Homo sapiens: one gene and its partners. The protein of the gene in region 1 purifies or fractionates together with the protein of each later gene. This does not show direct contact. Each region holds a gene or a part of one and is shown in the gene's direction. Other genes may lie near its edges.

Region 1 (3,500 bases):
AGGAGCTGGGACTACAGGCGCCTGCCATCTCTCCCGGCTAATTTTTTGTATTTTTAGTAGAGACGGGGTTTCACCATATTAGCCAGGATGGTCTCCATCTCCTGACCTTGTGATCTGCCCGCCTTGGCCTCCCTAAGAGCCGGGATTACAGGCGTGAGCTACGGAGCCCGGCCTTGAGTTACTTCTTACTTTTAGCTATTATGAATAATGTTGCTATGAATATGGGTTTTCAATTCTTTTGGGTATTTACCCAGAATTGTAATTGCTGGATCATATGATAATTCTATTTTAAAGTTTTTGAGGAACCGACAAACTATTTTCCACAGTGGCTGGACCATTTTACATTCCTACCAACAGTGCATAAGGGTTCCAATTTCTCCACATCCTCACCAACGTTTATTTTCTGTTTCTTTTTTTTTTTTCAAGTAGCCATCCATTGGGTGTGAGGTGCTATCTCATTGTAGTTTTGATTTGTATTTCCCTAATGATTAATGATGTTGAGCATCTTTTCATGTGTTTACTGGCCATTTTGTGTATCTTTGGAGAAATGTCTGTTTAAGTCCTTTGCCCATTTTTAAATTGGTTTGCTTTTTTGTTGTTGAGTTTTAGGAATTTTCTATATATTTTGGATATTTTCAGATACATAAACGGCAAAAATTTTTTCCCCATTACTGTGGTTTGCCTTTTTACTCATTGATACCGTGTGGTCTTTTCCTTTCTTTTTCTTTTTGGAACCAGTGCATGGCCTCTTTGTTGATTCTGTGTTTGGCCCCAGTGCAGCCTGTTCTGTGCTATGTGTCTGCAGTGCTGAAACCAGGCCTACCCAGCACCATACAGAAGTCCAGGCTGTAGATACCAATGCATGGGTCACATTTGATACCCAAATCTGTGTGTTCCTGGATCTCCAAACCAAAGTTTCCAGTATCTGAGAAGTTGTTCTTTCTTGATTCACACTCCTGCATCTTTAGACCTTTCTTCAGGGTTTCTTCTGCTTTGGCCCTTTGTGCAGTGGGTGGCAATCTTCACTTCTCCTGATGCCAAAGGATCTGACAATGTATTTGACTTTGGAGAACACAGGGGTCTGGCCTATGAGCTGCTCCAACACCTTGGCTGCTGGGGTCAGTCATCTCCAGTCTCCTCCATACAGATGTTGAGACAGAAAATCGTTCTGTCACCCAGGCTGGAGTGCAGTGGCACAGTCTCGGCTCACTGTAACCTCTGCCTGTCAGGTTCAAGCAATTCTTATGCTTCAGCCTCCCAAGTATCTGGGATTACAGGTGTGCACCACCATGCCTGGCTAATTTTTTGTATTTTTAGTAGAGATGGGGTTTCGCCTTGTTGGCCAGGCTGGTCTTGAACTACTGGCCTCAAGTGATCCACCCATTTTGGCCTCCCAAAGTGCTGGGATTATGAGTGTGAGCCCTCATCTGGCCAGAGTTCTCTTTTTTTTACCTTGATCTTGCACTATGATGGAGAAAAGGAAGATAAAGTCTTTTTTTTTCCCTTGGGTTTGTTTGTTTGTTTGTTTGTTTGTTTTTTGAGACGGAATTTTGCTCTCGTTGCCTAGGCTGGAGTGCATTGGTACGATCTTGGCTTACTGCAACCTCCGCCTCCTGGGTTCAAGCCATTTTCCTGCCTCAGCCTCTAGAGTAGCTGGGATTACAGGCATGCGCCACCACGCCTGGCTAATTTTGTATTTTTAGTAGAGATGGGGTTTCACCATGTTGGTCAGGCTGGTCTTGATCTCCTGATCTCAGGTGATCCGTCCACCCTGGCCTCCCAAAGTACTGGGATTACAGGCGTGAGCCCGTGCCTGGGCTATTTTTTTTTTCTCCCCTTTAAATATAGTATCTTGCTTTATTGCCCAGACTTGTTGTGAACTCCTGGACTCAAATAGTCCTCCTACCTCAGCCTTCCAGGTAGCTGGGATCACAGGGATGCTGTCTTTTGATACACAAACATTTTAAATTTTTATGAAGTCCAGTTTGTCTTTTTGTTTTTGTTCCCTGTATCTTTGGTGTTATATCCAAGAAATCATTGCCAAATCCATTGTTGTGAAGCTTTTGCCTTATGTTTTCTTCTAAGAGTTTTATAGCTTTAGGTCTTACATACATTTTTGATCCATTTTGAGTTAATATTTGTATATTGTGTTAGATAAGGGTCCAACCTCATTCTTTTGCATATGGATATTTAGTTTCCCAGCACCATTTGGTGAAAAGCTTGTCTTTTTCTGATTGAATGGTCTTGGCAACCTTATTAAAAATCATTTGCTCATATGTAAGAGGGCTTATTTCTAAGTGCTGTTATGTTCCATTGGTCTATAAGTCTGTCTTTATGTCAGTACCACATGGTTTTGATTATTGCAGCTTTGTAGTAAGTTTTGAAATCAGGAAGTGTGAGTCCTCCAGCTTTGTTCTTTTTCAAGATTGTTTTGGCTATCTGGACTCCCTTGGGATTCCATATGAATTTGAGGATGAATTTTTCTATTTTTGTAAAACACGTCATTGGGATTTTAATAGGGATTACATTGAATCTATAGATCACTTTGGGTAGTATTGGCATCTTAACAATATTAAGTCTTTCAGTTCATGAACAAGGGATGTGTTTCCATTTATTTATGCCCCTTAATTTCTGCCAGCAGTTTTTTTTTGTTTGTTTTTGTTTTGAGATGGAGTTTCGCTCTTGTTGTCCAGGCTGGAGTGCAGTGGCACAATCTTAGCTCATTGCAACCTCCACCTCCCGAGTTCAAGTGATTCTCCTGCCTCAGCCTCCTGAGTAGCTGGGATTACAGGTATGTGGCACCACGACCAGCTAATTTTTGTATTTTTACTAGAGACAAAGTTTCACCATGTTGGTCAGGCTGGTCACGAACTCTTGACCTCAGGTGATCCACCCACCTTGGCCTCCCAAAGTGCTGGGATTATAGGCGTGAGCCACTGCGCCTGGCCTCAGCAGTGTTTTATAGTTTTCATTTTATAAGTCTTTCACCTCCTTGGTTAAATTAATTACTAATATTTTATTCTTTTTGGTGCTATTTTAAATTGAGTTGTTTTTGTAATTTCCTTTTTAGATTGTTCATTCTTAGTGTATAAAAATGTAACTGGAGGCTGGACGCAGTGGCTCTCACCTGTTATCCCAGCACTTTGGGAGGCAAGGTGGGCCTCCCAACTCCTGATCACGAGATCAGGAGTTCAAGGCCAGCCTGGCCAACATAGTGAAACCCTGTCTCTACTAAAAATACAAAAATTAGCCATGCATCGTGGCGCGTGCCTGTAGTCCCAGCTACTTAGGAGGCTGAGGCAGGAGAATCGCTTGAACCTGGAAGGTGGAGGTTGTGGTGAGCCAAGATCGTGCCACTGTACTCCAGCCTGGGCAACAGAGTGAGACTCTGTCTCAAAAAAAAAAAAAAAGAAAAAAGAAACGTCGCTGGATTTTGCTTGTTGACTTTCTATCCAGCTACTTTGCTGAATTCACTTATTAGTTCTAACAGTTTTTTTTTG
Region 2 (3,500 bases), on another chromosome or scaffold:
GATGGTTTGTGCTTGTCGGAATCAGAAACAGTCAACAAAGAGCGAGCGAACAGTTACAAAAATCCCCGCACGCAGGACCTCACCGCCAAGCTTCGGAAAGCTGTGGAGAAGGGAGAGGAGGACACCTTTTCTGACCTTATCTGGAGCAACCCCCGGTATCTGATAGGCTCAGGAGACAACCCCACTATCGTGCAGGTAGGTCTCGGCGGTTCCCTCGGGCAGGTGTGCGGTCCCGGCCGTTCCATCGCAGCACTCGCACAGGGCGTGTCCACACATCAGATAGGAAGCTCAGAGCATGCGGTTCTCTTTCAGGAAGGGTGCAGGTACAACGTGATGCATGTTGCTGCCAAAGAGAACCAGGCTTCCATCTGCCAGCTGACTCTGGACGTCCTGGAGAACCCTGACTTCATGAGGCTGATGTACCCTGATGACGACGAGGCCATGCTGCAGAAGCGTATCCGTTACGTGGTGGACCTGTACCTCAACACCCCCGACAAGATGGTGCGTGCACACCCTCCACTCACGCTTTCTTTATTTAATTGGTTAAAAGTCTTTCCCCAAAAGAATGCTTTATCGACAAGTTACTCATTAGTATAATAACTTTGGGGAAAAGATACATCAATTACACCCCTGCAACCTGCCTTCTTACCACATCCCACTGGACAAAGGGCACCGAGCGCTGGGGTTCCCTGGCCCCTGCATTGTCGTCGTGTGTGCGATGCTGTCCCCGAGGGTGTCTGAACTGTCTGGGGACACGGTTGTCAGAGGACATTTCCTCTGCCGAACAGGACACCTTGAGCTGAGCAGCACTTCCCCTCCCGGGAGTGGCAGAGCTGTGCACACCACAGGCAGGCCCTCAGTGTCCTACCAAGAGCCACTGAGGCACAGAGCTGCCCCTGCAAACCATGCTGCCTGACACGCAGGGCTGTGGAGAGAGAGAGAGGCTGCCTGACACGCAGGGCTGTGGAGAGAGAGAGAGGCTGCCTGACACGCAGGGCTGTGGAGAGAGAGAGAGGCTGCCTGACACGCAGGGCTGTGGAGAGAGAGAGATGCTGCCTGACACGCAGGGCTGTGGTGTGAGAGAGAGGCTGCCTGACACGCAGGGCTGTGGAGAGAGAGAGGCTGCTGGGGTGCGACTGCTTAGAAACAGGAACGATCTTGGTAGCTCCGGAGAAAAGGTGACAGCAATCCTGGCCGATGCCCATGCCCCACCCTCCACCTGACCTGTGGGGTCATTTCATCTGAAGTGCAGCCAGCAGGCGGGTTGGAGTCACTGATGAGTGCCCCCCGGGCCAGGCCCATGCAAGGCAGCACTGGGAAGCGGGCACAGCTCTTCTAAAGGGTGCTAAAGACAGGCTTTTCCTTCTCTTAGCCCCTCCCACCCCTGGGAGCCCAAAAGTCCTTCAGGGCAGAGTAGGGAGCCAGGGGAGCTGCCCTGCTTGAGAAGAGAAGCAAGTTTTATACACTGGGATGGAGCGTGTTAGTGAAACCAACACCCCAACTGGAACAGGCAGTCACACAGGCCAGGTGTAAAATCCCACACAGTACTCACAGCCATTGAGCAACCCTCATTTATATGTTTATGATAAATAAAGCATGAGGTAATGTGAGGCTTGAATTTCAGCTTGAGTCCAAAGAAATAATATTCTCTCACTAGGAGGCTAAAGCTGCTTTGCCTAATTTCGATTTTTGAAAAGTCCACTGCATTAAAAAAAAATAATGAATTTGCTTTTCATTAAAGCTAGATTAGTACAACAATTGGGCAGTTGTTGATATTCAGTTTACTTTCTGTGGGCAGGAAATGGACACTTCTTGTTTAGCATTTCAAGATAAAAACTCATGGAACAGGTAGGGCTTTCTGGGTGATTGCATTCCTTCTGTGAGTTAGGGAAGGAGGAGGTCAAAAATGCCACTTATGCGTAGGACTCTTCAATGCTTCAACATTCTGATGGGCTAACCTGATTCTTTTTTTTTTTTTTTTTTTGAGACAGAGTCTTGCTCTGTCTCCCAGGTGGGAGTGCAGTGGCACAATCTCGGCTCACTGCAAGCTCCTCCTCCTGGGTTCAACTGATTCTCCTGCCTCAGCCTCCCGAGTAGCTGGGACTACAGGCACCCGCCACCATGCCTGGCTAATTTTTTTGTATTTTTAGTAGAGATGGGGTTTCACCGTGTTAGCCAGGATGGTCTCCATCTCCTGACCTCGTGATCGGCCCGCCTTGGCCTCCCAGAGTGCTGGGATTACGGGCGTGAGCCACCGTGCCTGGCCACTAACGTGATTCTTAAAGGGAGCCTGGGCTTTGGCTCAGTATTTCAAATCCTCCGCCCTGTCCACTTCCTGTACCCCTAGGAAGGACAGCACAGTTATCTGTTTCACCTACAAACTTTAGTATATAACTATGTACACAACTGTTGAAATTCATGTGGATGCGGTAGCCACGTCTCCTTGTGGATGGGCAGGACTATTCTCAAAGCCGGCTCTGCGTGTGCGTCCTGGCTGGCCGCTTTGTTGCTCAGAGCTCCGGCTGTGATGCTGAGGGTGTGTGTGTGTGCTCTGCAGCTGAGCGTAAGCGACCACAGGCTTAGAGAGGTGCGGGATCCGACGGGCTCGTCGCCCCTCCCTGCTGAGGAAGGGAGATTGTCCTTGCTGTTCTCTGTCACCCACGACCTTAGACTTCATGGGCCCAACTTGGTCTTCAAACGACTTGAAAGTTGCAAATTTCCTTACGTCTCCGAGCTTCCTACTGATGGCAGAGCCCACCATGGACAGGGCCGCTGAGGTCTCTGTCTTGGTTGAGGTCTTCTGTCTTGCTGTGGGAGCATTTCCTGAGTCTTGCAGAGATCCGGGTGGGCCACTTTCTCATTCCACTTCCACATTTCTCAGAAGTCTTCACATAGGCGTTAGAGAGGGTTCCGTTTCAGCCTCCAAGGCAGAGAGGCCCAGCCTCCTCTCAAGCTCTCCACAGTCCCCCTCCTTGGCTGCCAGCACTGGTGTAGAGTGACAGTTTCCTCATCCGTCTTGGTAGCTGGGCCCTGAGCTCTTCCTCCTCAGCCTCTGTCAGACCCTCAACAGCAGTAGCCTGGGCAGCCCCACCTGTGTCAACAGGGACATTGGTCATGGAGTTGGACGGCAGGCCTTTGTGAGGAGAATTCGGGTTGACATCTTGGCTGGCGGCGTCTGTGTTCAGGCAGTCATGGGCCGCGGTGCGGGCGCTGTGGGAGCCGAGTGATGGGCTGTGGGAGCCGAGCAGGCAGCAGCAGGGTTGCTCACTGCACGCACGCTGCCCGGGAGCTGCCTCTGCTGGCTGTTTTAATAGGAATGGTAGCCAGTATTGTAGTTTAAGAAAGATTTGTGAGGCCGGGTGCAGTGGCTCACGCCTGTAAACCCAGCACTTTGGGAGGCCGAGGCAGGCGGATCACGAGGTCAGGAGATCGAGACCATCCTGGCTAACACGGTGAAACCCCGTCTCTACTAAAAATACAAAAAATTAGCTGGGCGTGGT
Region 3 (3,500 bases), on another chromosome or scaffold:
ACCTCAAGTGATCCACCCGCCTCGGACTCCTAAAGTGCTGGGATTACAGGCATGAGCCACCACGCCCAGCTGGCATCTGGGAACTTGACTGGTAAAGAGCTCCTATGTGGATACAATACTATCCCCAAATAACAACTGCTCACTCTTTTCTATACAAATCATGTGATATTTGCTGAACACTTGCTTTTCTTCTGAGCCTGGCATTTCGGTGACCATATTCAGTCACGCAGGCACAACGTACCTACATGAGCAACCCCCAGTGAAAACCCTGGACTCCTGGGCTCAGGCAGGCTTCCCTGGTAGAGAACACTTTGCACATGTCACAGCTCGAGGCTGGAGGATTCAGCACATTCTGCGGGAGGGGACCCCAGGGGAGGGGACTCTGGGGGCTTGTACCTGGTTTCCTCCGGCCCTCACCCCAAATGCATCTTCCTGTTACTAATTCTGCGTCGCATCTTTTCACCGTAGTAAATCCCAGCCACTAGTATGATGGTAGGCTAAGTCCTGTGAGTCCCTCAAGTGCAGTCACCAAGCCTAGTGTGTGATGGGGATGCCTGCATACCAGATCAGTAGAGAAAAGGACAAAAACCGTGTGATCACTGAATAGACACAAAACATTTGACAACCTCCAACACGCTTTCATGATAAAAACATTCAACAAACTAGGAATAAAAGGAGTTTCTTCAGCCTGATCAAGAGCATCCGTGAAAACCCCCACAAGCAGGCCAGGCGCGGGGGTTCACGCCTGTAATCCCAGTACTTTGGGAGGCCGAGGTGGGCGGATGACCTGAGGTCAGGCGTTCGAGACCAGCCTGGCCAACATAGTGAAACTCTGTCTCTACTCAAAATACAAAAAATTAGCCAGGCGTGGTGGCGAGCACCCGTAATCCCAGCTACTTGGAAGGCTGAGGCAGGAGAATCACTTGAACCCGGGAGGTGGAGGTTGCAGTGAGCCAAGATCACGACATTGCACTCCAGCCTGGGCAACATAGTGAGATCCCGTCTCTACAAAAAAATTTAAAAATTAGCTGTGTGTGGTGGTACATGCCCAGCTACTTCGGAGGCTGAGATGGAAGTGTCACCTGAGCCTGGGAGGTTGAGGCTGCAGTGAGCTGTGATCATGCATCTACACTCCAGCCCAGCGGACGGAGAGAGAACCTGTCTCAGAAATAAAAGTAGAGCACGACAGCTCCCACCTGTCATCCCAGCACTCTGGGAGGCTGAGGCGGGCGGATCACCTGAGGTCAGGAATTCCAGACCAGCCTGGGGAACATGGAGAAACTCCGTCTCTACTAAAAATACAATAGCCAGGCTTGGCTACAGGTACAGCGCACCTGTAATCCCAGCTACTTGGGAGGCTGAGGCAGGAGAATCGCTTGAAACTGGGAGGTGGAGGTTGTGGTGAGCCGAGATTGTGCCATTGCACTCCATCCAGCCTGGGTGACAAGAGTGAAACTCCATCTCAAAAAAAAAAAAAAAAAGATCACATACAATTATGTATAGTACCTAATATTTGATAATGATAATAAATATGTTATTAGATTATTTACTATACTTTTTATCATTACTTTAGAATATACTCCTACTTATTTAAAAAGTCAACTGTAGGCCAGCCACAGCATTGGCTCACACCTATAATCCCAGCACTTTGGTAGGCTGAGGCAGGCAGATCCCCTGAGGTCAGGAGTTCCAGACCAGCTTGGGAAACATGGTGAAACCCCGTCTCTACTAAAAATACAAAAATTAGCTAGGCATGGTGGCGCCAGCCTGTAATCCCAGCTACTTGGGAGGCTGAGGCGTGAGAATCGCTTAACCTGGGAGGTGGAGGTTGCAGTGAGCTGAGATGGTGCCACTGCCCTCCAGCCTGGGCAACAGAGTGAGACTCTGTATCAAAAAAAAAAAAAAATTTTTTTTAACTGTAAAACGGCCTCAGGCAGGTCCTTCAAGACTTTTTGGAGGTATCCAAAAGAAGGCACTGTCGTCATAGGAGATGACAGCTCTAAATGTATTATTGTCCCTGAAGACCTTCCAGTGGGACAAGATGTGGAGGTCGAAGATGGTGACATGGATGACCCTGACCCTGTGCAGGCCTAGGATAGTGTGTGTCTTAGTTTTTAAGCAAAAAATTCAAATCCTTGGCCGGGCATGGTGGCTCACACCTGTAATCCCAGCACTTTGGGAGGCTGAGGTGGGTGGATCACTTGAGGTCAGGAGTTCAAAACCAGCCTGGCCAACGTGAAGAAACTCCATCTCTACTACTAAAAATACAAAAATTAGCCAGGTACAGTGGCTCACGCCTGTAATCCCAGCACTTTGGGAGGCCGAGGCAGGCGGATCACGAGGTCAGGAGATCAAGACCGTCCGGGCTAACACGGTAAAATCCCGTCTCTACTAAAAATACAAAAATCAGCTGGGCGTGGTGGCGTGTGCCTGTAATCCCAGCTACTCGGGAGGCTGGGGTAGGAGAATTGCTTGAACCAGGGAGTTGGAGGTTGCAGTGAGCCGACATTCATGCCACTGCATTCCAGCCTGGTGGCAGAGCGAGACTCCATCTCAAAAAAAAAAAAAAAAAAAAATTAGCCAGGCATGGTGGCACACACCTGTAATCCCAGCTACTTGGGAAGCTGAGGCTGCAGTGCACTGAGATCGTGGCAGTGCACCGAGATCGTGCCACTGCTCTCCAGCCTGGAAGACTACATCTCAAAAAAAAAAAAAAAAATACTGTCTCAAAAAATTAAAGTCCAACTTAAAAATTTTAAAATCCTTAAAAATAAAAGCTTATAGAGGCCGGGTGCGGTGGCTCATGCCTGTAATCCCAGCACTTTGGGAGGCCAAGGTGGGCAGATCATGAGATCAGGAGATCAAGACCATCCTGGCTAACATGGTGAAATCCCATCTCTACTAAAAATACAAAAAATTAGCCGAGCGTGGTGGCAGGTGCCTGTAGTCCCAGTTACTCGGGAGGCTGAGGCAGGAGAATGGCGTGAACCCGGGAGGCAGAGCTTGCAGTGAGCCGAGATTGCGACACTGCACTCCAGCCTGGGCAACAGAGCGAGACTCCATGTCAAAAAATAAATAAATAAAAGCTTGTAGAATGAGGTTCTAAAGAAAATATTTTTGTACAGCTGTACAATGTATTTGTGTTTTAAACTGAGTGTAATTAAAAAAAGCAAAAAGTTTAAACATCAAGTTACAGTAAGCTTAGGTTAATTTATTACTGAAGAAAGTGTTTAAAAATGAGTGTAGCCTGAGTGTTGAGTGTTGTATACTAAGTGTGCAGGACATACACTAATGCTTTAGGCCTCCACGTTCACTCACCCACCCACAGCAACTTCCCACCCTGCAAGCTCCATTCATAATTCATGCCCTGTATAGGTGGGCTGTACTTTTTTTTTTTTTTTTTTTTTTTGAGATGGAGTCTCGTTCTGTCCCCCAGGCTGGACTGCAGTGGTGAGATCTCGGCTCACTGCAACCTCCGCCTCCCAGGTTCAAGCGATTCT
Region 4 (3,500 bases), on another chromosome or scaffold:
TATTTAAGTTTTGCAAAGATGATTTTAACTCTAGTGTAGAGAACAGTTTGTAAGAAGAGGCAGTTAGTAGGCTATCATAGGTGGCAGTTCATAAGAAGAGAGGGGAGCAGATTAGAAAGATTAAAATGGCAAAACTTGTTGATACCTTGGCTATGCAGGGGTTCAGGAAGAGCGAAGTATCAGGAATGACTCCTGGAATAATGGCATCCAGACTTGCATTCTGGAATGATTATGGCATGATTCACTTATGTAGAAAGGACTGAAAAAAGACTTGGTTAGGTTGGGGTTAGAGAGATGGTTAGAAAATGTGAATTCTCTTTTGTACATGTTGTGTTTGGGGTGCTTTTAAGATGTAGTAGTAGAGATGGTAGACAGTGTGATATACAGATTTGGAGCTGGAGGTCTGAGCTGAAGATATAAATGTGTATTACTTGCATACAGGTGATAATTGAAGTGACTGTATTCACTTGAGGGGAGATGTAGATTAAGAAAAGGTCACAAGATTAAGTCTTGGGGAACCCTAAGACTTAATGGCCAAATAGAAGAGATGATCACAAAAAGGAATCTAAGGAAGTACACATACAGAGAAGGGTAAGATGAAAACCTGGAGAGTGTGGAGTCCCTGAAAACGAGGAAAGAAAGTGTTTCCCAAGAGGGAGTAGTCAAAAAGAGTCAAGGGCTTTAATCATTGGATTAGCATCACCATGGTCTTTGGTGACTTTATGGAAACCCATTTCCAGGTAGTAGTTGGTTTAGAAATCACATTGTAGTTGAGAGAGTGAGAGCTAGAGAACTGAGATAGGAGTATAGACAAGTCTTTTAAGACATTTTACTAGTGAAGGGGACAGCTAGAAATAGATAAGTCATTCAGGAAACTTTTTTTAAGCTGGCAGAGATTAAGCTGTGCTTATGTGCCTATAGGAAGGATCCAGATTAAAAGGGAGAGGATAGTATGGAAGAGAGAAATGAGATGATGTGTTCAGTAGGGTTACTGAGAATGTAGAAAGCAGCTCAAGCAGAGGAACTGACCCTAGATGAGAAAAGAAACGCCATCTCCTATCCTTCATGGATTGGTACTTTCTTGTGTTCTTATATCATTGTCTCTTTTCTCCCTGTATGTTCTTTTTTTTTTTTTTTTTGAGACAAGTTTCACTCTTGTTGCCCAGGCTGGAGTGCGATGGCGCGGTCTTGGCTCACTGCAACCGTCGCCTCCCGGGTTCAAGAGATTCTCGAGCCTCAGCCTCCTGAGTAGCTTGGATTACAGGCATCCACCACCACGCTCTGCTAATTTTGTATTTTTAGTAGAGATGGGGTTTCTCCATGTTGATCAGGTTGGTCTTGAACTCCCGACCTCAGGTGATCCGCCCGCCTTGGCCTCCCAAAGTGCTGGGATTACAGGCATTAGCCACCCGCCTGGCCTCTCTCTGTATGTTTTTGCTGAGTGATATTATGTTAATTTTAACTGCTACTTATATGTGAGTGTCTTTTGAATCTGTATTATTAGCTTCCAATCCTGGATTTTTAGTATCCCCGTACCAAAAACACTTCATCTGGGTATCCCACAGTAGCCTTTAAGTCAGAACATTAGAAATCAAACTCATCAGCTCTTCCCAACCTAAAGTCTTCCCACATTTCCTTTCTGATCCAGTGAAGTCACTGTTCATTCTGTCTCTCAAACTGAACACGTTCTCATTCTCTATATCATGCTAATTACAAAATTCTGTTGTGTGAGCCTCAAAATTTTCACTTTCCATTTATCCCATGTTATGACCATTTAAACCCTCATTATCTCCCATTTGCTTTGTTACAAACCTTCGTAGTCAACCTAAATCCAGCCTATCAGTTCTCATCTATTCACTACCACACTACTAGGTCATGGTCCTAAAAGTTAAGTCTAATAACATCAGTTTCCTACTGTGAAAACTTTAGCTGGTATCCTGTTGCTCACAGGATAAAATGCAAATTATCTCCATGTTTCTTGGACACTCGTTCCTTGAAGTTGACCATGTATACCATATCATGTTTTTGTCACTTTGTACCTGTTACTCCATTTGCCTGGAGTGCCTTTCTTTCCCTCATATAACTATTAACTTCTAATAATCCTTCAATACTAAGCACACTTTTCACCCTCTGTTTGAAATTTTTCCTACTTTTTCCAGGCACATGGTTGTTCTCTCAGCATTTTGTACCTAATATTACCATTGTTTTAAAAAATTATTTATGCCTTTGTCACAGACAAGATTTTAAGACTCCGCCATGCCCAGCAGTGAGCTTAAATACTACACAACATAGGGAGTTCTCAATAAGATTGTGTTGAATTAAAGTATGAAAGCACATAATGAATTAATTGAGATATTTTGGCCATATTTTTTTCTCTTCAAAAGCCAGATAGTACAGAACAAAAGAATAAAGAAATTCATAATTGAGATACTTTGGTTGGAAATTTGTTTTGAAATGAATTGATACATACTAAGAAAGGAATTAATAAAGGTGCCTTGGAAGACTTTGTAGTAATTTACCCTATAATAAATGATTTGTGGAATAATGAAAATATCTCTTACTAATGTAGACAGTTTTATTTCATTTTTATTCTCCTAAATGTTTTCCTCAAGAAACATAAAAAAAGAGGACAGTTGCTTCTCTTTAGCTATAATCTGAATTCTAGGTTTATTTCTATAAACTTTAGGCTTTTATGATGCATACTATAAAACGTTACACTCTGTAAATATGTATGTACATATGCATGTATGCATATACATATATACATGCATACATACGTACATCTAGCTAAGGAACTGTTTGACTTTTTTGGGGTGGGAAAAACATTTTTTTCTTCAAACTTTACATTTTTTTCAGTGCAAATATCTTACTGGATGAAGCTTTTACTGCTAAAATATCTGACTTTGGCCTTGCACGGGCTTCTGAGAAGTTTGCCCAGACAGTCATGACTAGCAGAATTGTGGGAACAACAGCTTATATGGCACCAGAAGCTTTGCGTGGAGAAATAACACCCAAATCTGATATTTACAGCTTTGGTGTGGTAAGTTCCGTATACATAATTATTAAAAATAATCATTCTGCTATAATTGTGAAAATGAAGAGAATATTATTTAATACACCCATCTTGTTTATCTCTCTTATGTAACAATATAAGTTTTTCACATTAACCTCTACTTATACCAGAAAGTTTATAAAAACTTCTTCCAATGTGTAAAACTTTTGAGTTGATTTTTGAAATGACTACAAGAAATGATTTTCTTGCCATCTGTCTTTATGAATTAGCATGACACCTAATGCATTAAATGAATCATGTCATACAGTATATACTTTAGTCTCACATTTTTTGACATTTACTAATCTACCTCTCTATTCCCAATAACTTTTAAGATAGAGCAAGAGATAGGTGTGGGTGGTTGAAGAAGCCGGGGGCTTTTTCTTCATTTTATTTTTTCATACGTGTTTCATATATGGAAATTTAACTTCATAGCACTGAAAATAAG
Region 5 (3,500 bases), on another chromosome or scaffold:
TTAACATAGTTTTTAACTTTCTCCATTTGATTTTCTGTAAGATGTGGTCTTGATGCTTTTATATTGATTTCATAAAATTGGGAGTTTTCACTTGGTCTTCTTTTGTTATTTATTTATTTATTTATTTTCCTTCTTGTTTTGCTTTTTAGAGACAGGGTCTTGCTCCGTCACCCAGGCTGGAGTGCAGTGGCGTGATCATGGCTCACTTCAGTGTCCAACTCCTGGGCTCAAGCAATCCTCCTGCCTTAGCCTTCCAAGTAATTGGGACTATATATAGGTGCATGCCACCATGCTTACCTAATTTTTATATTTTCTTAGGAGACAGGGTCTCATTATGTTGCCCAGGCTGGTCTTGAGCTCCTGGCCTCAAGCAGTTCTCCTGCTTTGGCCTTCTAAATTGCTAGAATTACAGGTTTGAGCCATTCTGTTCAGGCTTTACTTGGTCTTTAGGAAGGCCTTATATCTTTTTTTTTTTTTTTTTTTTTGAGACAGAGTCTCGCTCTGTCGCCTAGGCCAGAGTGCAGTGGCGCTCATTTGGCTCACTTGGCTCACTGCATGCTCCGCCTTCCAGGTTCATGCCATTCTCCTGCCTCAGCCTCCCGAGTAGCTGAGACTACAGGCGCCTGCCACCACGCCCGGTTAATTTTTTGTATTTTTAATAGAGACGGGATTTCACCGTGTTAGCCAGGATGGTCTCGATCTCCTGACCTCGTGATCCCCCTGCCTCGGCCTCCCAAAGTGCTGGGATTACAGGCGTGAGCCACTGTGACCGGCCAGGAAGGCCTTATATCTTAAAGCTGGAATAAGCAAAAATTTTTTGTGTTAATAACAAGCAAAATAATTGGCATTGTCAATAGAAAGTATAGGCCTGGCCAGGCACAGTGGCTTAACGCCTATAATCCCAGCACTTTGGGAGGCTGAGGTGGGTGGATTGCTTGAGCCCAGTAGTTCAAGACCAGCCTGGGCAACATAGTGAAACCCTGTCTCTACAAAGAATATAAAAATTAGCTGGGCATGGTGGTGCATGCCTGTAATCCCAGCTGCTTGGGAGGCTGAGGTGGGAAGATCACCTGAGTCCAGGGAGGTTGGATTTGTAGTGAGCCTTTATGCCCCTGCACTCTAGCCTGGGCAACAGAGTGAGACCCTGTCTCAAAAAAAAGAAAGTCAGTCTAGGCCCGTGCAGTGATAAGGAACCTGTCAGACATGGATGGATTTTCAGTTCAGAAGATGACAGTAGAGTTTACCCAAAGGCTACCTTAGTCATACCCCTCAATAAAAGAGGAATAGGGGAGAAGTAACTGAATGTTGGTTGGTTTGACCAATGTAAGCTGAGCTGACTGTTGTGGGCCCACCACTCTGTGGTTGGTTTATCCCTCTCTGGGCTACATAGGTGAATCACCACTTACAAGTAAACTGGGTCTTGCGGATCTAGATGAACATCTGTCATCTCTGTTTACAGACCTGTTACCCTCCAAATCTTCTGTGACCAAGATTTGCAGAGACCCACAGACTCCTGTACTGCAAACCAAACACCGTGCACGGGCTGTGACCTGCAAAAGTACAGCAGAGCTGGAGGCTGAGGAGCTCGAGAAATTGCAACAGTAAGTCCCACTGGCAGTATCTGAGGAAGAGTTCCACGAACCTGCCTACTTTATTTTCAGTTCTGTTAGGGTGACAGTTGCTATTTTTCTTTCCGTAAAAATTTATGGCATTTGAGTAGTAGGCTCTGCAGGCTACGCCCCTGCCTATATGATTTAAGGACTATAGTGGGAATATGGAGATGTTCTGGAGTATAAACTGGTAAAAATTGAATCCAGGCTGGGTGTGGTGGTTCACACCTGTAATCCCAGTACCTTGGGAGGCCGAGGCAAGAGGATCACTTGAGTCCAGGAGTTTGAGACCAGCCTGGGCAACATGGTGAAACCCCATCTCTACAACAAATACCAAAAAAAAATTAGCTGGGCATGGTGGCATGCGTCTGTAGTCCCACCTACTAGGGGGCAGCCTGAACCCAGGAGGTCAATGCTTCAGTGAGCCAAGATCACGCCAATATACTCCAGCTTGGGTGACAAAGCGAGACTGTCTTGCACATACACACATACACACACACACACACACACACACACACACACACACACACACAAAATCTAATCCAGAGGTTGCAGTAGAAGAACTTACTTAGGATTTCAATTAAGGAATGCCCTCTAAGGTTAAGTTAGGTAGATCCCACCCTTTTGTGACTCCCCAAGGGATTGTTACAGCTATTATTAGTGGAGGGAAATGGAAACTTAGTGTGATTCGTAGCATTGGAGTTTATTTCCTGTATCCTTCTTCCATTCCTTTTTGTGCTTCTTTTGAGGAGGGGGAGCTTCTTCTGTGAAGTGAAGCCTCAATTCTTAAGTGGTAGGGATGTTAGGACTGTCTGATTTATTCTTTCTTCTTTTATTCTTTTATTATTTTTTATTTATTTATTTTTTTTGAGATGGAGTTTCGCTCTTGTTGCTCAGGCTGGAGTGCAGTGGTGCCTCTAAGCTCACTGCAACCTCCGCCTCCTGGGTTCAAGAGATTCTCCTGCCTCAGCCTCCCTAGTAGCTGGGATTACAGGTGTGCACCACCACGCCCAGCTAATTTTTGTATTTTTAGTAGAGATGGGGTTTCACTGTGTTGGCCAGGCTGGTCTTGAACTCCTGACCTCAAATTATCTGCTCACCTTGGCTTCCCAAAGTGCTGGGATTACGGGCATGAGCCACCGTGCCTGGCCCATTGTTTTTCGTTTTTATTTATTTTATTCTGTTGTCCAGTCAATGGGAGCATAATCTTAATGATTACTATTCTTTGTGGTTGGCTTACTTTGTTTGTGAAGTTTTCATTTTATTAAAATTTTTTTTGTGGTTATTTAAATTTTCACCTTACAGATACAAATTCAAAGCACGTGAACTTGATCCCAGAATACTTGAAGGTGGGCCCATCTTGCCCAAGAAACCACCTGTGAAACCACCCACCGAGCCTATTGGCTTTGATTTGGAAATTGAGAAAAGAATCCAGGAGCGAGAATCAAAGAAGAAAACAGAGGATGAACACTTTGAATTTCATTCCAGACCTTGCCCTACTAAGATTTTGGAAGATGTTGTGGTAAGGTTGAGGCTATGTGTGCTGGCAGAAGTGTACTGCTCATGACCAGATATCCACCCATTCACACAAAAGTTTGGGTAGATATTATGAGCAGGGCATCATATTAGGAACTGCAGGTGATAAAGAGACTTATCGGAAGTGGATTTTGCTTTTAGTTAACTCAAAGTCTGGTATGGGAGACAATATATGTGTGAATAATAGAAAATGGACAGAAGTGTTCTGAGAGAGATGACAGTTAAAATAGGAATTCAGAGGAGAAAATGGTTTCTTCCAGATAGAAAGTTCAGGGTGTGCTTTGTAGAGAGGCACATTTGACCTGAGCCTTGACGATGTACTGTAGTAATAGTTATTGTGTTGCTATTGTTGTC
Region 6 (3,500 bases), on another chromosome or scaffold:
GTTGTATTTATCAATTTTGGTTGATTATTTTTTTCACTTTGTTTCAGTCGTTTTGGTAACCTGATCGAAGTTTACCTTGTGTCAGGAAAAAATGTGGGGTATGCCAAGTATGCCGATAGAATAAGTGCTAATGATGCCATTGCCACTCTACATGGAAAGATTCTGAATGGGGTGAGACTTAAAGTTATGCTGGCAGATTCGCCAAGAGAAGAATCTAACAAACGGCAAAGAACTTACTGATTCTTGAGGTAAGCCCTTTTTAATCTGAATTTTAAAACATATTGAGTAAATAGTATATGAGGAATATGTGTAAGTACTTTATAAACTTTTCTTTTTAGTGATTTAGAAGTTGTCAGTTAAAAGAGCTTTGCAACTATTTAAACTTTAAAAATTGTTGACATTTACTGAAGAATGTTTTTGCCCTTCTGTAAAATAAAATCACATTTCAATTTAGAAAGATAAATAATTGTTTTTTGTTTGTGAAATCTTCGATTTTAAGAATTCAACTTTTTATTATGTGCTTATATAAACTTTTAAGTTGTCCGGTGCTAGAATAAGGATTGCTTTAAAAAAAAATTGAAATACTTCTAAAGATTTTTAACTTGAAAAATTGGTGTCTTGAGTTATGAATTGAGGTAATTTATAACAGTCGTTTATAAAGATAATGTTTTGACTTCTCTCTAATGAAATGCCTAAAAAGCAATATCAAATAATATATCATTTTTGGACCTTTTGAACCTAAATGTTGGTGTTTTCTGGACTTGTATTTGTGAGTTTGTGCATTAAAACAATACATTCAGAAAATATTCTCGTATGCATATATGTATTTTTTAAGAAAACCTGACAATTTACCAAAAACTCTTTATTGTAAATTTTGATACATACAGCCATATGAATTCCATTTCCTATTTTATTTATTAGTTTTCAAAAATCAAACTACAATTTATTTGACTGTGACAGTGAGTTTATATCTGTGTGGTTTGGGGAAACATTCCTTAAAGTTTGACTTTTTTTTTCCCCCGAGACGTCTCGGTCTGTCACCCAGGCTGGAGTGCAGTGGCGAGATCTCGATTCACTGCAACCTCCACCTCCTGGATACAAGTGATTCTTCTGCCTCAGCTTCCCCAGTAGCTGGGACTACAGGCGCGTACCACCACGCCTGGCTAATTTTTTGTATTTTTAGTAGAGGCGGGGTTTCACCGTGTTTCGATCTCCTGACCTCATGATCCGCCCGCCTCGGCCTCCCAAAGTGCTGGGATTACAGGCATGAGCCACTGCGCCTGGCCTAAAGTTTGGCGGTTTTTATTCTGTAAAATAATTCTGAATTTCAGGGGAAGCCGTTTTCCTGTTCCCACACACTAACTTTCCAAGTCTACTATAGGTCAAATGTAGTAGATGGCAGGCACTTTGAATTCAGTTTGAAGTTACTGGCTTGAAACCTTTATTTTTTTCACTTAAGATTTTCTTTCTGACCAATTGTGTGAGCTAGCACGTATGAGAATGATTCCTGCCAGGCCTCACTGCTGATGACCCTTCCTCTCCTAGAACAGATCACATGATTAGTTCCTCCTTCATAGCTTCATAGAAGGCATTTGACAAGAGAAAGTGCCCATTGGGCCCATAATCCTAATTTTTAAATCTTTTTAAATGTTTTATTAAATGACAAAACCACTCTCATTGTACCATACATTGTTAGCAATTTAACCCTGGATATATTAAATTGGGAGTGGAAAAGAATTAGCAAGCATTTTTTCCTGTTTATGGATAAAATGTTAAGAATGAATTCTGTTTGGAGAAGCTATTCTCTAGCATGCAAAAAATGTGTTTTTTCTAGTCTGTGAATATTTCAATAATAGGAAATAAATAGTTCTTGCTTTTACTCAATAAATCTTTGTTCTTAAAAAGGACAATAATATAGACTTTAGACTTCTCAGTATAGAAAAGTATATAAATTATTCTTGTGGTTGAACCTTTTCTAATGATTATTTACATGTTAAAGAGAATATTGGGCTTAAAATAAAAAGCCATTTAACTGTGACTGGGCTGGTCTCTACGCCCTTTTTTTTTTTTTTTTTTTTTTTTTTTTAAACACAGAATCTTAGTCTGTCACCCAGGCTGGAGTGCAGTGGCCTGATCTCAGCTTACTGCAGCCTCTGCCTCCTGGGCTCAAGCAGTCCTCACAGCTCAGCCTTGCAAGTAGCTGGGACTACAGGCATGTGCCACCATGCCCAGGTAATTTTTTTTGGTAAGACAGGGTTTTGCCGTGTTGCCCAGGCTGGCCTTGAACTCCTAAGCTCAAGTCATCTGCCTTCCTCGGCCTCCCAAAGTGCTGGGATTACAGGCATGAACCACTGCGACTGACCCTCTTTGCCTTTTTGAGGCCCAGTTTTCTCATAGGGCTTTTGAGAGACAATGAGTCAACAAAATGTAAAATGAAAAAAAGGCTTTGCAAGTCTAAACTAAAACTCTTGCATTTGTAGCTTCAGTGAAACCTTTGAGATGTCCTCTTATCTAAAATAATGACATCCAAATGATCAGAAACTAAAAGTATAATGATATAAAACTACCTTGTGGCCAGTTGGTACTGTGAGAACTAAGCTTTATAAATACCACATTTTTCCCTTAAACTCATCCAATTTCCTACATCAGAGGAATTGCATTTTCAGCATGGCTGTTCATAAAAATTTTAATCTATCATTTTTCCCTTTTTTGAACTGTTACGCATATTCAGGGCAGAGATAAAATAGGGTCAGGTTAGTTGAAAATGGCTGTTTGGATAGGATACGATTAGCTACACGGTTTTGAATTTCTTCTAATTGCAGCATGGCTTTTTTTATTTTTGCTGCGGATCTCCTATTTACAATGGACTCCATTATGAGATTCTTCTTCTTTGTTGGTGTATTAAATAAACATATTACCTTATTTTAAGTTTCGATAAAATACTGTGGAAGACTTTGCCAAATTTTATATGATTGTGACAAGTTTTTTGGGGTAGGTGCACTTTTTTGTTTGTTTCTTTAATTTTTAAAAGGCTGCAAACACAGCTCATGAAGGCTGGTTTCTTTTATCTCTGAGGTATGGGCCTGGGATTAAGTGAGTCATGCCTAGGAAATAGAAGCAACTGATCCAAGGATATAACATTGAAAGTAGTTGAATTCTATTTTGAGATGGGTCTGATAACCACAATGTAATTCTCTTTCTATTTGAGGAAAATATAAATTTTAGTATTTCAGAGCATCAGATTTTTTGTTAATTCACAACACTTTCCCTCTAGAAATTCAGCACCTGCATCGCCCTTCTTAGTAAGTTTGGTTTTATTTGGGGGCAGCTATGATTAAGCAGATAACATTGGGTATATTGAAATAAAGGAACAATTCCTAACATTTTAGGAATACTACAACAGCTATTTCCTTTCCTTTCAGGTGATGATTTTCATACTTGTGTTGTGTTCTTTCTACAGAACAAAGACTAAATAATGACATAATCCTCAGCTGACTGAC
Region 7 (3,500 bases), on another chromosome or scaffold:
GCAACAGGTTACGGTAATTTAAAGAAAATATAAACTTTAAGACCCTAACCTGTTATACTAGTACTATAATTATAGCCTTGTAATAACTTTAAGTCACTTCTTAATCTCAGTATTGGGAGTTTAAATTCTTCAAGGCCAGCTAGTCCAATTCCCATATTTTATACATAAGAAAACAGAAGGTTGTATAGGGGCGATATCTCATGCATAGTTGATTTCATAACTGGGAGAAGAATCCATTGCACAGCTGCTAAGTCTACATTTGTTTAATATGTCAGATAATTATAAAATCAGAACATAATTGTGATCAACTTGGCAGTCTATTCAGTATTAATTAAAAACTCAAAATGGGCCTTTTTTTTCATGAATCCAAAGTGTTAACTTAAAAATGAATCTGAACCCTTTCCTCTGTAGTTGGGACTATAAATTGATACCATTGGAGCAACCTTCTGGAAGGAAATTTGGCATTCCCTATCAAGATTAAAAGTATATATATTGTTTGATAGAATCATTTCCTGCTTAAAATTTATGTTACATAAATTTTAACAGCATAGGAATTGTATAAGAATGTTTATATTAGCATTATTTCAAGATGTCAATAACATTTATAAATAATTTAAAAATGTCCTAAATGTCTGTTGGTAGGCTAATAGTTAAAAGTCTAGTATTTTTATGCTGTGAATTACTGTGCAGTTGTTAACAGGTTTCAGGGTATCTATATTTACTTCATGAGCAGCAGCTGAGCATATCCTTCAGCTCCTGGAACCATGCGGTGGACCTTCTGGATTCAAAACCTAACTGCACTACTTTCTAGCTGTGACTCTTGGCGAATTACTTAAAGTCAACTATAAATTGGATATACTAGTAGTTCTCATGTTACAGGGGTACCATGAGAATTAAATGAGTTAACAGTTAGGCCCTAAATAAGCATTAATAAGCGCCACATAAGTGTTTGCTGTTACAATTATGTATTGACTTGGAAGAATGTTCATGATATAAAATTAAGTGAAAAAATAAGTTGCACTATACTATAGAATATGATTTATTTAAAAAACACATAGACAAATGTAGTTTTGTTTTCATTTTGCATGTGAATAGAAAAAGGTCTATAAGGATAGACATTAAACATGTTATTCCTGAGGGAGTGGATGACTTTTCTTTTTTACTTTAGACATTTTTGTATGGTTTTATTGTAAGAATCACTTTTATAATTTTTGAAACTTTTTTCTAAAAAAAGGAAGTAAATTTTTTCTTCTATTAAATAGTGATATAAATGTATTTTTGAATGTGATTTTTAGAGATCTACACATTTCATCAACAGAGTGTCTCATAATTAGATCCTGTGTCAAAACATTTGTTGATGGAAGGGCTGGGACTTGGTGGCTCACGCCTGTAATCCCAGCTCTTAGAGAGGCCGAGGCAAGTGGGTCACTTGAGGTCAGGAGTTCGAGACCGGCCTGGCCAACAAGGCGAAACCCATCTCTACTAAAAATACGAAAACTAGCAAGGCGTGGTGGCAGGCCTGTAATCCCAGCTACTGGGGAGGCCAAGGCAGGAGAATTGCTTGAACCAGGGAGGTGGAGGTTGCAGTGAGCCAAGACTGCCACTGCACTCCAGCCTGGGCAACAGAGCAAGACTCCATCTCAAAACAAACAAAACTTTTGTTGGCTGGGTGCGGTGTCTCATGCCTATAATCCCAGCACTTTGGGAGGCTGAGGCGGGCAGATCACCTGAGATTAGGAGCTTCAGACCAGCCTGGCCAACATAAGGAAACCCCATCTCTACTAAAAGTAAAAAACTAGCTGGGCATGGTGGCAGGCTCCTATAATCCCAGCTGCTGGGGAAGCTGAGGCAGGAGAATTGCTTGAACCTGAGTGGCAGAGGTTGCAGTGAGCCAAGATTGCACCACTGCACTCCAGCCTAGGTGACAGAGGAAGACTCTGGCTCAAAACAGACAAACAAACAAAAAAACTTTTGTTGGCAGAAGGTTGAAATTTAGGAAAATCTATAATAAATATATTTGTTTTTCTCCTAGCTTTGTAGCCTTAAGTCTTATTTCTTACTTTACAAAGTAAACCCGTAGGCTAGATCAGTGTTTCTTAAATCCAGTATTCCTAAACTGTGCACTGAAGTAAATCCTCACTTAATGTTGTCCATAAGTACTTGGAAACTGCAACTTCTAAGACCCCAAACACCTCTAATATTAAACATTGAAATAAATGGGTCCTATGCATACATTTAAGAAATACTAAAAACAAGATAATTACCCACTTATTTCAGTTCAGGATGGCAGGTGGCTGGAGCCTGTCCCGGCAAGTAGGGCACAAGATAGGCTGCCATTCCATTGCAGGTAGCATTTACAGACACACACACACCCACCCACCCACCCACATTCACTCAGACTGGGACCATATAGACATGCCAATTCATGTCAGTTCACCTAATGCGTGCACCTCTCTGATGTGGGAGGAAACTGGAGCATACGGAGAAAAGCCACACAGACATGGGGAGAACATGCAGGCTCCACATAGATGGTAGCCCTGGTGGGGAAATCAAAATTTTTTTCTCATCAAAATTGTGAAGAAATGATATTGAATGAAACTATGTTATGGAGGACCTGCCGTACTGTGGAGCACCATAGTAACTCACCTGGACACTATGCATTATTTGAGAAATTTTAATGGAAACAGCAATATTGGATAGCTGTGGGATATTTGACATCTATAGGACACTACTCAAACTACCAGTTTGAGATACCACACAAGAGATTGTGTTCCATTTTTTTTGATGACACTGTGTCTTCCAAACGCTAGGTTTTGGGAGTTTGCTGTGATAAAAAGCAAGTACTATGCAAAAATCAATTTGGAACAGTAAATGAAGGTGGTGGTGTCCAAAATGATTTCAAGATTTGAGAACTTGTGTAATATCTAGTAGGTACACACATCCTATTAAGTAGTTGTGGTAATTTAGTAATAAAAATATTTATTTCAATTTATACATATTTATTTTTCGATCTGCTACTAAGTTGGTAGGCTATAAATACTTTTTAGGTTGTGGACTGAACTACTTAGTAAATGGAACTGTTAGGTATTTTTTTGGCCTAGGGGTTCCATGAAAAAAATAACTGGCATACTGAGGGGTCTGTGAACTGAGAAAGTTTAGGAACCTCTTGAACTTTTGACCAGGACACCTATATATATTTTCCATGTTCTGTGCTCCCAAAGGTTGATTTTTTACATTTATCTTTATTTTTTATTTTTTTAAATAAAAAGAATAGATGTGTGTTATACGTGTATGTGTATACATATAATGAATCAAAAGTTTCACTTTTCAAAGTTTTACTTTAAACAGCCTCATGGCCAGGCGCGGTGGCTCATGCCTATAATGCCAGCACTTTGGAAGGCCGAGGTAGGCAGATCATTTGAGGTCAGGAGTTCAAGACCAACCTGGCCAACGTGGTGAAACACCATCTCTACTAAAAATACAAAAAAATTAGCTCGGCG

What was found.
Region 2: the proteins of KIF11 (region 1) and ANKLE2 purify together in Homo sapiens (affinity purification with mass spectrometry; one large-scale study listed by BioGRID and IntAct). This does not show direct contact.
Region 3: the proteins of KIF11 (region 1) and FLYWCH1 purify together in Homo sapiens (affinity purification with mass spectrometry; one large-scale study listed by BioGRID and IntAct). This does not show direct contact.
Region 4: the proteins of KIF11 (region 1) and IRAK4 purify together in Homo sapiens (affinity purification with mass spectrometry; one large-scale study listed by BioGRID and IntAct). This does not show direct contact.
Region 5: the proteins of KIF11 (region 1) and TPX2 purify together in Homo sapiens (affinity purification with western blotting, with the first as the bait; one study listed by BioGRID). This does not show direct contact.
Region 6: the proteins of KIF11 (region 1) and RBM45 purify together in Homo sapiens (affinity purification with mass spectrometry; one large-scale study listed by BioGRID and IntAct). This does not show direct contact.
Region 7: the proteins of KIF11 (region 1) and CEP350 purify together in Homo sapiens (affinity purification with mass spectrometry; one large-scale study listed by BioGRID and IntAct). This does not show direct contact.

Annotation. Positions count from the first base shown.
Region 1 is NC_000010.11:92,596,130-92,599,629, forward strand, and holds part of KIF11 (kinesin-like protein KIF11), read left to right. Parts: intron 1-729; exon of another isoform or gene 730-1,160; intron 1,161-3,500. UniProt on the Homo sapiens protein: Motor protein required for establishing a bipolar spindle and thus contributing to chromosome congression during mitosis. Required in non-mitotic cells for transport of secretory proteins from the Golgi complex to the cell surface.
Region 2 is NC_000012.12:132,744,833-132,748,332, reverse strand, and holds part of ANKLE2 (ankyrin repeat and LEM domain-containing protein 2), read left to right. Parts: intron 1-1; coding exon 2-195; intron 196-312; coding exon 313-501; intron 502-3,500. UniProt on the Homo sapiens protein: Involved in mitotic nuclear envelope reassembly by promoting dephosphorylation of BAF/BANF1 during mitotic exit.
Region 3 is NC_000016.10:2,942,931-2,946,430, forward strand, and holds part of FLYWCH1 (FLYWCH-type zinc finger-containing protein 1), read left to right. Parts: intron 1-396; exon of another isoform or gene 397-554; intron 555-3,500. UniProt on the Homo sapiens protein: Transcription cofactor. Negatively regulates transcription activation by catenin beta-1 CTNNB1, perhaps acting by competing with TCF4 for CTNNB1 binding. May play a role in DNA-damage response signaling.
Region 4 is NC_000012.12:43,779,451-43,782,950, forward strand, and holds part of IRAK4 (interleukin-1 receptor-associated kinase 4), read left to right. Parts: intron 1-2,856; coding exon 2,857-3,040; intron 3,041-3,500.
Region 5 is NC_000020.11:31,780,790-31,784,289, forward strand, and holds part of TPX2 (targeting protein for Xklp2), read left to right. Parts: intron 1-1,459; coding exon 1,460-1,601; intron 1,602-2,915; coding exon 2,916-3,132; intron 3,133-3,500. UniProt on the Homo sapiens protein: Spindle assembly factor required for normal assembly of mitotic spindles. Required for normal assembly of microtubules during apoptosis. Required for chromatin and/or kinetochore dependent microtubule nucleation.
Region 6 is NC_000002.12:178,125,937-178,129,436, forward strand, and holds part of RBM45 (RNA-binding protein 45), read left to right. Parts: intron 1-47; coding exon 48-240; 3' UTR 241-248; intron 249-3,422; exon of another isoform or gene 3,423-3,460; 3' UTR 3,461-3,500. UniProt on the Homo sapiens protein: RNA-binding protein with binding specificity for poly(C). May play an important role in neural development.
Region 7 is NC_000001.11:179,957,810-179,961,309, forward strand, and holds part of CEP350 (centrosome-associated protein 350), read left to right. Parts: intron 1-3,500. UniProt on the Homo sapiens protein: Plays an essential role in centriole growth by stabilizing a procentriolar seed composed of at least, SASS6 and CPAP. Required for anchoring microtubules to the centrosomes and for the integrity of the microtubule network.